Linked DNA regions of Homo sapiens: region 1 is linked to region 2. The links come from fine-mapping of genetic effects on gene expression. A gene starts in region 2. The other region holds a variant in brackets. All regions are shown on one strand. Distances are between the middles of the regions.

Region 1 (2,906 bases), 170 kb after region 2:
ATTTTTTGCAACATTTTCCTTTGCTTTCTTATAAACACTCAAAAATTATACTTGCTTTTCCTGAAGGCCAGCTATTAAGTTAGAAAGCACCAAAGGTGTTATGAAATTGCCCTTTATTTTTTCGTACATCAGGGAGGAATGATAGATTTTGTGTATCTCTTGTGTGTCATTAGAACAGAAATATTTAGGGCTGCTAACTCCCGGAGTTGTGTACTTACCCTTATTACAGATGCAATGATTTTGTCTGACTGCATTGCTTTAAGATGAGTTTTATTGCTTTCATGCTTAGGCAAGGATATTTAATTTTATTTGTGTTTAGAGTATCTTGTTGTAATATACTTCTCCCCCATCTTGTGCTCCTAAATTTGGGATAAGCATAGAATCCTTTTAAGAATGTAGGTTATTTTCCAGTTTACTAGAAAGCATGACACATATAAATTAGCGACTAAGGATTATAGCGTCCTTTCCTAAAGGTTATCATGAAAAAAAGTTAAAATGTCAAAGAAGATCCTACTCCAGTAAAAACAATTTACTCTGTAAAATCCTGATACCTCATAGGAAGCTTTGGATCTTGTTCTCAGCTACCAAAATTCTTTAAATATGAAAGTTAACATGACAGGAAAGTGGAATACACTCTGTGCTGAAGACCCACTGTTCAAGGTGTGTGGTTATTAATCTGGGTTTGAATTTACAAATTATATGGTCTGATTAATTTGTAGATAGGGGTCGGTGGAGGTTAGACGATGGGCTTTAGAACAAAGAGGCTGATAAAATACTACTCACAAGCCTTTCTGCTTGTTTGTGACTCTCTGGAAATGCCATTAGATAGTTCTCATAGCTATGGTCAAAATAAGTAGGCTTAGAAATAAAAGACATTTTCTCCCCTGTAAAAGGAGGCGGCTGGCCTGTGCTCTTTCTAGGCTCTTCCCAGAGACAGCAACCTCGGCTTCTGAACCCTTAGTGCTCATTCTATGCTCCACCGCGTCTCCTCTACACGCCATGATCTTTGTTATCTGATTTGCTAGCCATTGTTATGGAAAGTTCTCGACTGTAATGCAAAAAGCTCAGCCTTGGGTCCTTGCTAATGTCAGCAACCCAAAGGCGCCCCTCAAACCACCTCGAAAAGAAAAATCCTTTAAAAGATGTCAAACTCTCCTTTCATGTTAGCCCAAAATGAAGTTCCCGAGCAGCATCTGGCAGAGCAGGGTAATTCAATCTATTTTAATGCAAAGATTTTCCAAGAAGGCAGGAAGCCGTCAAGGAGAAGGCTTT[G/C]AGGCATCTGCTGTTTTGTTTCCAGATCCCTTGTGTTAATTTAATGTTTCTAGGGAACCCGGCTCTTTCTTTTTTCTCGGAATCCCTGCTCTAGGAACTGGTGAGTGCGGGGGCGCTGTGGGAGCTGCAGATAAGCCAGCGCTTGGCCGGGCACCCGCGGGCCGCGCAGCGGGGCAGGGAGGCGCGCGGCCCCAGCCGCCCTAGGGCGCCGGCTGCCTCTGCGGGCCCCGGCTGCCCAGCCCAGCGCGGGGAGGCGGCGCCGACTGCCGGGGGGCGCCTGCAAGACCTGTTTATTTGCATTTGTCCAATTTGGCTCAAGTGAAAGGTAAATACGGAGCGATCAGCTTGTCCTCACTCCAGCAAAACCAGGGAAACTCAGCTCCATCTCCAGGAAACAAACCCAACCCAAACCTGAGTGAAACGTAAATCTTGCATAAACAAACACGTTCTTTTGCTTCTGGGAAGGAACACCGGAGAAATGGGCATTCCTTCCGACTGCCCGCCTCCCACTGTCGGTAAAAATGAGCCGTCACAGGTTGCCGGCAATTTCTTGTTGTGTCCCGAGCCATTCCGCGGATCTTGTTTTGAAGGGGCGAGTCAGGTGTTTGTGCGGCTCCAGATCCTGAACAGGTTATGCGCTGGGTCCTTCCTTATCAGGAGGGGGGTCAGGCTGCCCTCCCATTCTCATCTTCCGCCCCAGACCAGAGGCTACACCAAAGTTCACTTTTGAAAAGAAATCCTGCAGAATTAAAAATAAATGTCTGCCCTTTAAAATAGTTTCGTTTTAGTATTATGCATATTTCTGTTTAGGAACTTGTAATGCTAATAATTTATGTTGCTATGACAATTGTCCTGCATACCTAATATTAAATTTAATGAATTAATGTGGCGTATAGAGTAATAGTAACTTAACTAGTACTCCGATAATGCCAGTATTCCCTGTGTTACTAAGTTAATGGAATCAGAATTTTGGAGTTACAATATAGAGGTTTTTTAGGCCAATTTTTCTATGGGATTCTAGGGATCTTTTTATAACATTTCTGCTTTTCGAAGCAGTCTATACCATTGCTGGAGAGCCGTAATTACTAGGATGCTATTTCTTTTTGTTTGTTTGTTTGAGACAGGGTCTTGCTCTGTCATCCAGGCCGGAGTGCAGTGGGTCCAACTCAGTTCACTGCAACCACCACCTCCTAGGCTTAAGCGATCCTCCCACTTCAGCCTCCCCAGCACCTGGGACCACAGGCCCTCGTCACCGTCTGGTTAAGTTTTGTATTTTTTAGTAAAGATTTGGTTTCGCCATGTTGCCCAGGCTGGTCTCGAATAGAACATTATTCCTTATAGTAAGCTGAATTCCCTGTGTAATTATTCTTACTGTCCCTTCAATAATAAAAGCCTAAAATTATTCTTACTCATATATTTTAGTGAGGGTGGTGCATGCTTGAAGACCGTGATGAGTGTTCTCTTCTTATATTCAGGGCAACTATGATCACATATTGGGCTCCAGATCCTTGCTTTATGCATCTTCTTTTGAATTGTTTAGAAACAATGGCAAAATTTCCAATTTCAAGGTAGTGCTTGAAATTATGCAATAAAATGTTATGTTAGCAACATTTTTTTTTATTTTAAAAATTCCT
Region 2 (2,842 bases):
GCCGCGTGCGCCGGGGAGCGGCGGACGGCCTGGGCTTCCGCAGCTCGGAGCGCCGGGGAAGAGAGAGTCCGAACCGCGGCTCTGCCCCGCGGCCTAGCGTTGCTGCCTGCTTTCTCCAGCCCCTTCTCGGCGTCTGGAAGTGTCTGGAGTTTCTTTTTTTTATTTCCCCTAAACTGCCATTCAAATTAATAATCCTCCTAATAACCTGATCTCCCGCTCCTCCCCACCGGCCTGCCTCCCGCCCTCGCTCCTTCCTCCCTCCCTCCCTCTCTCCTTCCCACCTCCAGGGTCGCAGCCGGAGGGAAACCCGGCAGCAGTCCGAGAGTGGAGGTGTCCCAGCCCGTAGGGGGCGTCGCCGCGCGGTGGGGGATGGGGTCGAGGCAATGATCCTCGAGGCTTTTGTGTGCCCTCTGCGCACGGAACTCCGACCGCCGCCTCCGAGCGCGGGGCTGGTTGCATCCCCGGGCATCTCGTTCCCAAATTAAACGTTAACGGGGGAAACAAGGGCAGACGCCCCTCCTCTCCCGGGCCCCTCCCACCTCCCCTTTTCCCCCCACCCCCCCGCCCCATGTCCGCTGAGGAGGCTGCCTGGTGCGGAGGCGGCGGCGGCGGCCGCGGCCGAGGTCGAGGTAAGAGCGCGGCGTTGGTGGTTTGCATTTTCCGCAGCGCTCGCGACCGCCCGCTCGGCCCCGGCCTCGCCTCGGAGCCCCGCGAGGGCTGCGCGCTCGGGCCGATTCCTCGACAGCGCCCGCGGCGGCGAGAACCACCGCAGCCATCCTGGTCCGGGAGCGACCGCCGCGGCACCCCCAACCCCGCCAGAGCGGGCACCAGGAAGCGGGGGGAGGGGAGCGAGGAGCCTCCCGGGCGGAGATGCGGCAGCTCCCGCACCTCCGCACCCCGGGTTGGTGCCTCGGGGCCCCGCAGCGCTTTAGGGCGGAGAACCAAGTTTGTGTGGGTGCTTCTTCCTGGGGGCCCTCGGGCTGCGCCAGGTGTGAGACCGGAATGCCAATTTGGGGAATCTCTCCTGTTCTTTCCTTTTTAATTTTTTCTACTTGTCCTTGACAAGGGCCTATTCCCACTGGATCTGCAGGTGACTATTTGCTCTTCCTAGGTCGCCAGTCTTTGATTTCAGCTAGTGACCCTGGGCGGGAAGACACCCTGTTCACCCTCCTCCTGACCTCCGCCCCCCACCTCTTCAGCCAACTTTATCTTGGATCTCTGCTCTCTTTATCTTTTCTCTAGAGCTGGGCCAGGGCGCTAACTGGAAGCTTGGGGTTAAATGGTGCAGGAACGTAGAGGCGGAGGAGTCCCTGGGATTTTCCACGTCTATTTCCCCACCCCCACCCCAGCCGCAGGGGTCCAGTTTGGACTGACCCAACCTCCCGCTTTCTCTTTGTAGGCGATCAGTGGGTGACCGCGGCTGCGAGGGACTTTGTCATCCGTCCTCCAGGATCTGGGGAGAAAGAGCCCCATCCCTTCTCTCTCTGCCACCATTTCGGACACCCCGCAGGGACTCGTTTTGGGATTCGCACTGACTTCAAGGAAGGACGCGAACCCTTCTCTGACCCCAGCTCGGGCGGCCACCTGTCTTTGCCGCGGTGACCCTTCTCTCATGACCCTGCGGTGCCTTGAGCCCTCCGGGAATGGCGGGGAAGGGACGCGGAGCCAGTGGGGGACCGCGGGGTCGGCGGAGGAGCCATCCCCGCAGGCGGCGCGTCTGGCGAAGGCCCTGCGGGAGCTCGGTCAGACAGGTAGGGAGCCGATCGGCCGCGACGCGTGCGGGAGGGAGCGCCTCCCCAAGGAAGCAGCTAGGAAGCGGGGTCGAGGTGGGAAGCAAAGAATAAGATGGAAATACGTCCCTTGCTTCCAAGGGACCGCGGAGAGCACGCTCGCAGGGTCCTGGGTCCTTGGGAATGCGTAAGGAAAGTGGTTCTCCAGGGACTCAGGCCTGGCGGAGCGCAGAGCGCGGGAAGAGCTTCTTGGAAATAGCTTCTTAGCACGCTGGAAGATTTACTGTTTTCCGCAGCTGCTCAGGGTTAGGCTCCCGGGCTCGAACCCCGGCCGGGGAAAGCGTCGGGCGCCTCCCTTTGCACGGGGTGCAATCAGCAAGTCGGTGCCGCGGGCCCCGCAGGCCCAGCAGCATCTGGCTCCCGGGCGGAGCTGCGGCTGCAGCCCAGGATCTTGGCGGCCAAGTTCAGGGACTGACACTGCCGCGAGGGCGGCTGCCCGGGCGTCGAGAGTAGGCTGCGAAGCCCCCGCCGAGCGCGGCTTCCATGGTCGGCGCGCCCAGGGTACTGCCGCTTTCAAGTACAGTCAGGCAATTCGCGCGGCACGCTGTCTCTAGGCATCTGAAAAAAGAAAAAAGAAAAAAAGTAAAGTATCTGGCAAATCATTCTGGCTTTCCAAATCCGTATCCTAAAAGCTTACAGTTGTGGCACAGTTGAAATTTTGGTAGCAACAGGGGGAGGGAGAGGGAAAAGTTCTCTCGCTTGCGATTCCGGTCTTTCCGTGTGGGCCACGGGCTTTCCCTCCCGGGGAGGCACCGGCAGATTGCAAGTATCCCGGTAATTGTGGGGGTGGGGGGAGCACAAATGTTCAGACTTCTTAAATACGGACGGTCTCTGAGCCTTCTTAGAAAGCAGAGTGGGCCGGGGAGATGGTGCAGGCAGATGAAATCAAGAATGCAGGGGAGATGGATGGTTGTGATTGGGTTTGGATTAGGGCAAAGTTCAAAAGAGTTTAGGGAAGATTGTAAACTTGAAGTAGTAATTATCACTTGGGAATTCCCATTTCTTAGTGACTGGTAAGGTAGTCATAAAGCAGCGAACAGAAGCTATTGTAC

The links. PIP is the estimated chance that this variant, and not a neighbour inherited with it, causes the effect.
Region 1: its variant is fine-mapped to the expression of SOCS2 in whole blood (TOPMed, PIP above 0.99).

What each region holds. Positions count from the first base shown.
Region 1 is chr12:93,740,961-93,743,866 of GRCh38, forward strand. The region is part of intron 2 of CRADD (CARD and death domain containing adaptor protein); the gene reads left to right. Among named protein-coding and RNA genes, the nearest start is that of CRADD-AS1, 4.6 kb to the left of the region's middle. RefSeq lists enhancers at 358-1,314, 1,315-2,271 and silencers at 1,358-1,527, 1,558-1,647. The variant G/C (reference allele first, on the strand shown) is at 1,273.
Region 2 is chr12:93,571,286-93,574,127 of GRCh38, forward strand. It overlaps SOCS2 (suppressor of cytokine signaling 2), which reads left to right and starts at 1,390. Exons shown (of 2, transcript NM_001270471.2): 1 at 1,390-1,751. The coding sequence starts at 1,613. It overlaps SOCS2-AS1 (SOCS2 antisense RNA 1), which reads right to left and starts at 113. Exons shown (of 4, transcript NR_038263.1): 1 at 1-113. RefSeq lists silencers at 1-106, 467-516, 527-836 and an enhancer at 2,054-2,193.